Regions from separate parts of the Homo sapiens genome. Here region 2 is linked to region 1. Evidence: fine-mapped expression QTL. A gene starts in region 1. The other region holds a variant in brackets. All regions are shown on one strand. Distances are between the middles of the regions. Region 1 holds the start of GAS2L1 (growth arrest specific 2 like 1). Region 2 overlaps EMID1 (EMI domain containing 1).

Evidence for each region. PIP is the estimated chance that this variant, and not a neighbour inherited with it, causes the effect.
Region 2: its variant is the best candidate, but not a certain one, in a credible set for the expression of GAS2L1 in anterior cingulate cortex (GTEx, PIP 0.62).

What each region holds. Positions count from the first base shown.
Region 1 is chr22:29,303,717-29,308,716 of GRCh38, reverse strand. GAS2L1 (growth arrest specific 2 like 1) reads right to left here and starts at 2,067. Exons shown (of 6, transcript NM_001362985.3): 1 at 1,564-2,067; 2 at 1-630. The coding sequence starts at 611. RefSeq lists silencers at 1,331-1,470, 1,561-1,610, 1,631-1,900 and enhancers at 1,571-2,314, 2,661-2,710, 2,315-3,060.
Region 2 is chr22:29,255,396-29,260,395 of GRCh38, reverse strand. EMID1 (EMI domain containing 1) reads right to left here. Exons shown (of 15, transcript NM_133455.4): 15 at 799-1,579. The coding sequence ends at 1,452. RHBDD3 (rhomboid domain containing 3) reads left to right here. Exons shown (of 7, transcript NM_012265.3): 6 at 1-70; 7 at 159-524. The coding sequence ends at 336. Among named protein-coding and RNA genes, the nearest start is that of RHBDD3, 10 kb to the left of the region's middle. RefSeq lists an enhancer at 1-800. The variant G/A (reference allele first, on the strand shown) is at 2,381.

The DNA of each region.
Region 1 (5,000 bases):
TCGCTGGGTGTCATGCGGGGGCCGCGGGCAGGAGTCCCTGGTGCGGGGGCGGTTTCAGTGGTGTCCTCCCCAGCGGCAGGGGCGTTGGGGGCTGGGGGTGCAGCACGCAGCTCCCGCTCAATCTCCTGCTCAAACTGCACGAGGCGTGGGGCCAGCAGGCCCAGGCGTGCCCCACGCCGCGCCACCTCCAGCAGGCACAGCACCACGCTCTTCTCGTTCTTGCGCAGCACCAGGTCCTCAGTCTCAAACATGAGCACCTCCGGCACACCCAGCTCCACGCGGCACCAGCCGATGAAGGTGGCCACGTTGTCGCGCGCCATGAAGGAGCCAGGCACTACACTGTGCGCCTGGAAGGCCACACCTCGGGCCGGGCGGGCGGCTGCCAATGCACGGGCAGCCTCGGTCACGGCGTTGGCATGTTGGCACAGGGTCGTGCCCGTGGCCAGCCCTGTCAGGAAGCCATCGCCACCACCCGGGAGACCCAGGCCGTACAAGGCATTGAGCCACTCGGCCAGGTCCTCCTTCATGGCCTCCACGTAGGCCTCACTGGAGCGAAATGGCCGCACGCTCTTGGCCGCCGAGCCCGCGATGCCCGCCACTGGGTCTGCCATGCCCGGACCGGCCGAGTCACTGTGGGCAGGAACACAGTTCAGGATCGCTGTGGGGACCCAGTAAGCGCTCAGTACAAATTAAGCTGCTGGCCACCTGCACCAGTCTGTCACTCAGGCCAAATGCCTGGTTTACATGTTGGCTCTGGGAAATGTCGGTGCCCCAAGTTTCCTCATCTGCGAAATGGGTACAGTAACATTCCCTGCCTCATAGGACTCTATGGGATAATTTTTATAAATTTAGGGTCCATTAAGTGTTTGCTGTGTGGCTTTTTGCGGTGGAAACTGGGGCTTGGCTGGGGCCTCCCTCTCAGGCAGGGAGGCGCGCCCATTGTGAAGGGCTGGGACCTAGAGAAGTGAAGACAACGGCTAAGGCCCCCAGTGGACACGAAAGGAACCCAGGTCCTGACCTCAGAGTGGGTTATGTGCATGGCTTAGGGCTGGTGCCCACCCCATGTCCTGCGGGAAGGTCCCCGTGCCTTCCTTGGCCCCCCTTCCATAAGGGCTGTGCCGTCATTAACGACATAGCAGCAGCAATAGTGTAACAGCACGACCGCGCTCGGGCTCAGCGCGCGGAGGCATTATCTCCATTTTATAGATGAGGAAACTGAGGCGCAGAAAGGGTCGAGCTCGTGAAGGTCGCAGAGCTGTGGGTGGAGGAGCCCGGCGTCCAGGCGGCGCAGCGTGGCCGGTCTCGGCGATCCGGGGCCAGGGCCAGGCCCCGCCTCCTCCAAGAAGCCTCCCCAGCGCTCCAGGCCGGTGCCTGCGGGGCCAGGACTCAGAGCGGCCTCCGCAGGCCCTGCCGGTGCTGGGGCTCTGGGCCCAGAGAGGGTGCGGGGCCGCCCAAGGTCACACAGCCCCGGGGAACAGAGGCCGAGGACGCCGCTTCCCGCCCCGCCTCCCCACCCCCGTCCATGCGCACCAGGCAGGGAGTGCTGGGGGTCTCCGCGCTCACCTGGCTCATCCCGCGGCCCCGGGGAGCATTGCCCCAGCGGGGGCCGGAGCCGGGCCGGGCCGCCGCAGGGAGGCGCCGCCCGAGCCGCAGCTCTATGCGTCCCGCGCCGCGGCCTCCTCCTCGCCGCCGTCTCCGCCCCGCCTCCCTGGAATTCGGATCCTGCCCGGAGGGGGCGGGCGGGGCCGCGCGCTCTTAAAGGGGCCGCCCCTTCCCCGAGCCGGCGGGAGCTGGGGTGGAGCTGGGGTCTCCCCCCGCCCGCGATCGGGCCAGGAATCCCGGGTCTTCGAGCGCTCTCGACGCAGAGAGCCCCAGGGCCCCCAGACAACTGCGACCGGCCCAGGCGCCCAACCCCCACCCAGCCTAGTACCCGGGGCCCCGTCCAACCTCTTTGGTCTCCTGGGGAGGAGGTTGGGACCTTTTAATCGCCCCCCTCCCCAGACGGTGGGCTCCCCGGGCTGGCGCACAGCACGGCCTGTTCCCAAGATGAAGGCAGGAAGCGATAGCGGCTGGAGGCTGCAAAGTCACCTCCTCCCGGGTGGACCTCCCCTGGCCAGATAAACGGCACCGCCGCGGGGAGGGGGAGGATGCCCCTGGCGACTGAGGGCTCCTTGTGCTCACTGAATGCTCATTTTTGACCCTGAAATGAGGGGAACCGGTTTTACAGATGAGGATACTGAAGCTCAGAGAAGTAGGCAGATGGCCAAAGCCGGAGTTCCGCACAGAACAGGGGACGGGGGGCATCGGAGGCCGGCCGGACGCGGGAGGGTTAAGCCCCGCTGGGCTCTTTTTAAACTGCAGAGGACGGACCGCCGGGATCAGCGGGAAATCCTGCCCCCTGCTGCTGCCGGCTGGGCTGGGCGGGACGTCGGGCGGGTCTGGGCGGCAGCCATGCTACACGGGTGGGGCAGGCCTGCAGGGAAGCCGCCAACCACAGCCAGGCTCAGAGCTCCAATAAATCTCCTACTGTGTGCTGCCAGGACTGCTCTGCGCCCTTGACCTGAATGAACTGGTGTGTCACCTCTGTGAAGGACACTCATGCCCAACTGGGGCACAGTCAGGAGAGCAGCTGGTGGAGCCAGGATTTGAACATGACGATTATGGGGACGCCCTCATCCACGGATCAGCAGCATTGGTTGAGCACCTGTGAGCCAGGCCTCTTGGTGCCAGGCATTCACAGGCATCCCAGAGAGTCCTTGTGACCTTTTCTTTTTTATTTTCTTCCTTTTTTTTTTTTTTTTTTTTTTTGTCTCGCTCTGTCGCTCAGGCTGGAGTACAGTGGCTGGATCTGGGCTCATTGCAACCTCTACCTCCGGGGTTCAAGCGATTCTCCTGCCTCAGCCTCCCGAGTAGCTGGGATTACTGATACCTGCCACCACGCCCGGCTTTTTGTATTTTTAGTAGAGACAAGTTCACCATGTTGGCCAGGTTGGTCTCGAACTCCTGACCTAAGGTGATCTGCCCGCCTCCACCTCCCAAAGGGCTGGGATTACAGGTGTGAGCCACTTGCCTGGCCTGTGTGACCTTTTCAAAGGCGTTTTCTCACCTCAGCGCCCCCCATGGCACTTCCTCCAGTGAGGAAGGCAGTAACTAGCAATCCTCAAGGCTGACACCTGCGTGGCACCTACTGTGTGCTGGGTCTCTTTGGGCACTGGAAATCAACAGCAAAACAGCAGGGAACCAAGCAGAGCCAGCTCTCAGGGCCTGTTGTCCAAGTCTGGCAGGGAGGCAGCCCCAGGGCAGAGACAGGGATGAGGTGCAGAGAAGACAGGGATGGAGCCGGGTGAGGGTGTGGGTGTGAGGGGGCTGCAATTTAAAATCCCTCATCAGGAAAGGAAGTGAGGGAGGAAGGTCGGGGATATCTGGAGAGGGAGAGGGAACGGCCAGTGCAAAGGCCCCATGGTGGGCATGTGTCCGGCGTGCTCAAGAAGACTGGGGAGGTGGCTGAGGCTGGAGTGCAGGGAGGTGGGTGAGGGAGGAGGTAGAGAGATTAGAGAGACCCCAGGGCCGGTTAAGCAGGGCCTTGGGGGCCGTGTCTCTTTTGAGGGACATGGGAGCCATGCAGTGATTTAGAGCAGGGGTGGTTGGCTTAGGTCTTAACATTCCCGGCCGGGCGCGGCGGCTCACGCCTGTAATCCCAGCACTTTGAGAGGCCGAGGCGTGCGGATCACGAGATCGGGAAATCGAGACCATCCTGGCTAACATGGTGAAACCCTGTCTCTACTAAAAAAATACAAAAAAATTAGCCAGGCGTGGTGGCGGGCACCTGTAGTCCCAGCTACTTGGCAGGCTGAGGCAGGAGAAGGAGAATGGTGTGAACCTGGGAGGCGGAGCTTGCAGTGAGCCCAGATCGTGCCACTGCACTCCAGCCTGGGCGACAGAGCGAGACTCCGTCTCAAAAAAAAAAAAACATTCCCTGGGGCTGCTGTGGTGGGCCAGGGCAGGAGCTGGAGCCTCAGAGGAAACCAGGTGGTGAGAGGGCGCTGGATTCTGGCCATATTGTGAGGGGAGAGCTGATGTGCTGGTGGATTGGTTGAGTGTGAGGACGGAATCCAGGACAACTCCCAGGGCTGAGCACTGGGAGGGCGGAGGTGCTAACACCTGGGGAGGGAAGGGCTGCTGGAGGTGGAGGAGGGTTGCAGGTTTGGGGTGGGGGTGAATCAGGGTGTGGACATTTAACAGTTTCATCTTCAAAATACCCCGATGAGCTATGATACTCTTAGGTGTTCTCATTTTACAATTTGGGGAAACTGAGGCCCAGAGAAGGCATGGGATATGTGTAGCCAGCAGCTGTGCAGGAATTTGACTCCTGCTTATACCTACCTTGCTGCATTTTGGGGTTTTGGACATGGGTGAAGTTGGACGGAACCCAGGCTCTGTCATTGGTCATTGGGTGGGATGGTGAAGCTCCCTGAGCCTCAGTGGCACCATCTGCAGAATGGGACAGTAGTAGTAGTTACATCATGGGGTTGTGAAAAATAATGCCACTACCCAGCTCAGTGTGGCCTGGCTCAGCATATCCACTTCTCTGGGGAGGAGGGATTATAAAGAAATTCCTTCTGCTGGGCGCAGTAGCTCACGCCTGTAATCCCGGCACTTTGGGAGGCCGAGGCGGGTGGATCATGAGGTCGGGAGATCGAGACCATCCTGGTTAACACGGTGAAACCCCGTCTCCACTAAAAATACAAAAAATTCTCTGGGTGTGGTGGCGGGTGCCTGTAGTCCCAGCTACTCTGGAGGCTGAGGCAGGAGAATGGCGTGAGCCCGAGAGGCGGAGCTTGCAGTGAGCAGAGATCAGAGATTGCGCCACTGCACTCCAGTCTGGGCGACAGAGCGAGACTCCGTCACACACACACACACACACACACACACACACACACACACACACACACGAGATTCCTTCCTCCTTCTCTCCCATGAGCTGTGGCTTGTGATAAGAG
Region 2 (5,000 bases), 48 kb after region 1:
TTCTTGACGGGCCAGCCCAGGAACCCCAGAGCGCACCATGGCTGTCCAAGTCCTCTGTCTCCTCTCTGCGGTAAGGTGGGGTGGGCAGAGGTGGGGTCCCCTGGTATAGGGGCCGGGGTGGCCCTGACACTCCCCACTTCTCCCCCCACCCCCAACAGGCTGCAGCAGCTGGAGCGCATGGGCTTCCCTACGGAGCAGGCGGTGGTGGCACTGGCAGCCACAGGCCGTGTGGAGGGTGCCGTGTCACTGTTGGTTGGAGGACAAGTGGGCACTGAGACCCTGGTGACCCATGGAAAGGGTGGGCCTGCCCACTCCGAGGGTCCTGGGCCTCCCTAGCCCAGGCAGAGAGTGGGGCACAGGCAGGCCCTTGGGTGCTAAGGGCTGGGCTGCATGTGGGTAGCCCGAGCTCCTACTCTGTCTAAAGAGGGCCACAGTGGGGAGCAGGGGCACCTCTGGAGGCAGGAGAGGCCCCCCAGCATGCTGCCCTAGTACGTGTTTAGAATAAAAACCAGTTTGTTTTTCAACCTGGACCTCCTTGGAGGCAGCAGTTGTGTTTGACTCTTCTGTGTTGGCATCAGGGGGATGAATGAATGAGTGAGCACCAAATGAATGACCAGTTGTGGGAGAGCTGTTCCCTGATGTCCAGAGACACAGGCTTCCTGGCCCTGCACCTTGCAGCCTATACCTCCAGGAGGCTCTGTCCTCCAGCACAGAGCATTCTCCACCGCCCATTTCTAGCCCTCTCCGTCGTAGCCTCATTCCCAGCTGCCCCCATCTAAGCACACACTGAGACCAAGCTGCGGGGAATCAGGTAGGGGCCTTTATTGGCCAGCACACATCTACCTCCTGGCATCTGTCACAAGCATTTGCAGGAGTAGGCGGCCCCTTCCTCTCCATGTCCCCATCCCCAACCTGAGATGCGGGAGGGCCTGGGGGCTCAGAGGGAAGAACTGAGGCAAGAAGCCCCCGGTGATCCAGTCAGAGGATTGGGCAGCCTGACCTCGGGGTGGGGAGCCCAGCACTGGACAACAAGGAGGGAGGGGCACAGGAGGGCTCCCCGAGGTTTGGTCGGGGAGGGGGAGGAAGACTGCCCCCTGCCCTGTCATCTCTGCATGTGCCGAGCCCCAGCTCCTGACTCCCTCAGTGCCTTTGGGCCTGGATGCTCAGACAGCAGATGAGACGAAGCCTTGTACCTCTATCCCTCCTTGAAGGCCTGCCTCCCCCCACTTCACAGAGGGAAACTGAGGCCCAAGCCTCTCCTCTCAGCCCTTGCTCAGCCTCAGACATGTGCATGGTGCCAGGACTGAGACCTGCTTACCCCTAAGGCCTAGATGGCAGAAGGGACCCTGAGGACATTAATAAATATGGACGGGCGGTCCCTGGAGGCAGCTGGCCGAGTCCAGGTAGGAGGGGAAGCCTGGCCTGGTCTGCCTCAGGGGCCGCCACCACCCTCAGCCTCTCTCGTCCCGGCTCCTGGGGGCCACGATCCGGTAGTTGGTTGCATGTCCGCCCCTCTTGCCCCGAAGGAGGCTGGGGGTGCCTGTGCCGGCAGGGCCCGCCCCAGACCCCAGCTCTGGTTCTGCCGGAGGGAAGAAGGAGAGAGGCCACATTAGAGGGGTTCATGTGAGGTGCCCACCTCCCCTTGGCCCTCTAGGGGGTGGCAGAACCGGGCACGCTCTGCCAGGTATAATCCACCCTGGTATCTGGCTGCAGAGCTGTGGGAAAGGGGGTCTGCAGATTGGTTGGTGCCTCACGCCAGGACTTACCAGCCCCCCAGCCCAAGGAGAGCACTCAGGGCCTCTGCTTCCTGCTTTGTCAGGTGGGGATAACCACACCCACCTCCTTTAGGAAGTGTTTAGATGCAGTGAATGCTTCATAGAAAGGCTGCTTCTTTTTCTATTCATTTTGGGGTGGAGGTGTGCCCTGAGTCATCCCCATTTGGTAGCTGGGTAAACTGAGGCCAGGGAACAGACATGGGCTAGGCCACCAGTTGGGGGAAAGAGCTTAGGAGGCCAGGCTCTGCCACTGACCTACTGTGCAGTCTTGGGCAAGCTGGACCTCTGTCAGGGCCTCAGTCATCTCATCTCTGAAACAGGGACAGTTCCGGATGGAACCAGAAAACTACTCATCCTTCAAAACCAAGGGTAGGAGCCATTTCCTCCAGGAAGCCTTCTGTGCCTATCATCTCAGCCCTTCCCAAAGTAAAATGAGCAGGCCAGGCAGGTCAGAAGAATAGGCTGTTTTTCTAGGGGGAGATGGACACTCAGGGAGGAGAGGGCCACGGTGGAGGACTTGGCTAAGCCTCCATAGGACAGATACTTGGGTTCTGGTAAACACCAGGTTCCCACTGAGGGCACTGCCATGGAGTGGGCTGTCCGTC[G/A]TAATCATGACTGCCAGTGCCCCGACCCTGTGTGGCCCAGCCTGCCCTGCACCTCTGGGCTGAGTTGAGGGCTCCCGGAGCAGACAGGCATGTGTGGTCACTGAAAGGGACATTCCATGCCTTAGGGAGCGTGGGAGGGGAGTGGCACAGAGCACTGGCCCCAATGCCAGCTGGGATCATGGCTTGGTCCCACTCTGCCAGTTATGTGGCCTTGGGCAAGTCATAGAACCTCTGAGCGTCATCTGGAACGTGGGCATAATAGTCCCATTTTCACACCCTTGTGATACATGTGTTTACCGTGACCAGGACTGGAAAGTGGTTTTCACGGGAAATGCTGGATTATTATGGTTACTAGGTTGGTGTCGCTTCCACCCAGGTCTCCTGCAGGTCTGGCCCCTGTGAGTTTGTCACAATCAAATTTGGGGCCCTGGATGAGTGGCAGAGTCAGCAAACCTTTGCTGATGCAGTCCAAAGGGCCAGGACTTTAGAGGGGAGACCTGAGGTGGACCCCTAGCCTGACCATTCCCATTCCTGTGACTCTGAAGCAGTCACAGGAGCCTCTGAGCTTCTGTTTCTTCACCTGTAAAATGGCCACGGCATCGCTCACCTAGCAAGTTTACTCCTCTAAGAGATTGGAGATGATCAATCCAGCCCAGGTGGGCCAGACACGTGGCAGCTGATACTATTATCATAATTATTGATTATAACCTAAACATGAACCCCATCTGGGTCTTCAGTAGCACCTGATGTGTATGTTGCGCCAATGGGGAGGGTCCCACCTCCTTCCCTGTCCCATTTCCCAGTCCCCCGACCTGTCCCTCCAAGCCCCGACCCAAGCTGGCTTGAGGGGCCACTGGCAGTGGGTGTGGGACTTCTGAGGTGTCTGGCACTTTTCTCCCTGGGCTGTCAGAGACAGAGCTGGCTGAAGGCAGGGACAGATCCAGGGACATGGTGGCTCAAATGTGTCCCTTCTAGCTCCTGCTCCAATCCTCAGAGAGGAGGTGGAGACACCTAAAAAGGTTCTGAGAGCCTGAGATTTGGTCCTTGGCCCCTCTCTGTAAGAGGGGAGGAGGTCTGGGAGCTAGGCACTGAAGTTTCTAGAAGTTAGAGAAGCATGTGGCACTGTGGGAGGAGCTTTGGAAGCAGACCCCACACCCTTCCCAGGCTCTGGGCCTCTGCACAGGCAGGACTCTCTCAAGGCTGCCCGACCCACTTCCCCACCTGGCACACTCATTGGGATCTTCCAGGACGCAACGCAGAGTCCCCTCTTCCAAGAAGCCTTCTCCAACCCCTAGGGACAAGTGACTCTTCCTCATCCATATCCTTCCATGCTCCCCTACCCCATATCTCCGTAGATACGATTCCCTGCCACTCATGGCCAGCTCCCCAAGGCCAGCACCTATCTGTACTCCAGAGCACCAGTGCCCAACAGGTCTGGCTTTCAATGAGTGCTCCCTACAGTTTTGCTGGATGAAGGAGGCTGGGCTCTAACCTTAACCCTTCTTCCTGCTTGGGATCTAAGTTTCTCAGTCTTTTTTTTTTTTTTTTTTTTGAGATGGAGTCTCGCTCTGTCACCCAGGCTGGAGTACAGTGGTGCGGTCTCGGCTCACTGCAACCTCTGCCTCTTGGGTTCAAGTGATTCTCCGCCTCAGCCTCCCGAGTAGCTGGGATTACGGGTGCCCGCCACCACACCCAACTAATTTTTAGTAGAGACGGGGTTTCGCCATGTTGCCCAGGCTGGTCTTGAACTCTTGACCTCAGGTGATCCATACGCCTCGGCCTCCCAAAGTGCTAGGATTACAGGTGTGAGCTAACATGACCGGCCTCTCAGTCTTTAAAATAGATGCGAGGTTGGACATGATATGGAGGCCTCTGTGCACTGATGTGCTCACTGGGCTGCGAGATAGGGCGGCTGGGCAGGTGAGGAATAGAGCTCAGCCCCTCGGGTGGCCAATCCCTTCCTTTCTTCAGGGCCAGCCACAGGCTCCAGTTTCATGGGGAGAGATTTTCTCAGCCTCACTCCCAGGAGCCAGACGCAAGGAGGGGTACCACCCACTGGTGTCTAACCACCTCCTGTACTACCCCAACCTGCCTTCTAGGACCTTCTCAATCTAGGCCCTGCCAGATTCTGTTGCTTCTAGGCTCCTTCTGGTCTCTTGGCCTTCGCTTATGCTGTTTCTCTGCCTGTTCACTCTCCCCAGATCCTTGCCCTTCAAGTCTTCACTTAGATATCACCTCCTCCAGGAAGACCTCCCTGACCCCCCTCCAACCTCCTCTGGGCCAGGCCAGAGGCACTTCTGTATTTCCATGGCTGCCTGTACTCCCTTTCCTGCAGTGTAGCTCACCTGGGTTTCTCTACCAGTGTCAGGGTTCTCCTGAGCCCCCCAGCACCCTACACTCCTCAAGGGCAGGACTGTGTCTGTCTTATCTTGTGGAGCCTGTCCCAGCAAGGTGCCTGGCACAGAGCAGGTGCGCATTCACTCAAGTGACCAGAGCCTTCTCTCTGCCAGGCACCATTTGCTGGCTGGCTGGCTGGATGAAGAATGAGTGTCCGCTGGCCTGGGCCAAGCATCGGAAGGCGCCTTCTGCATGCCCAGGCCTTTTCCAGGCCCTTCCTGGA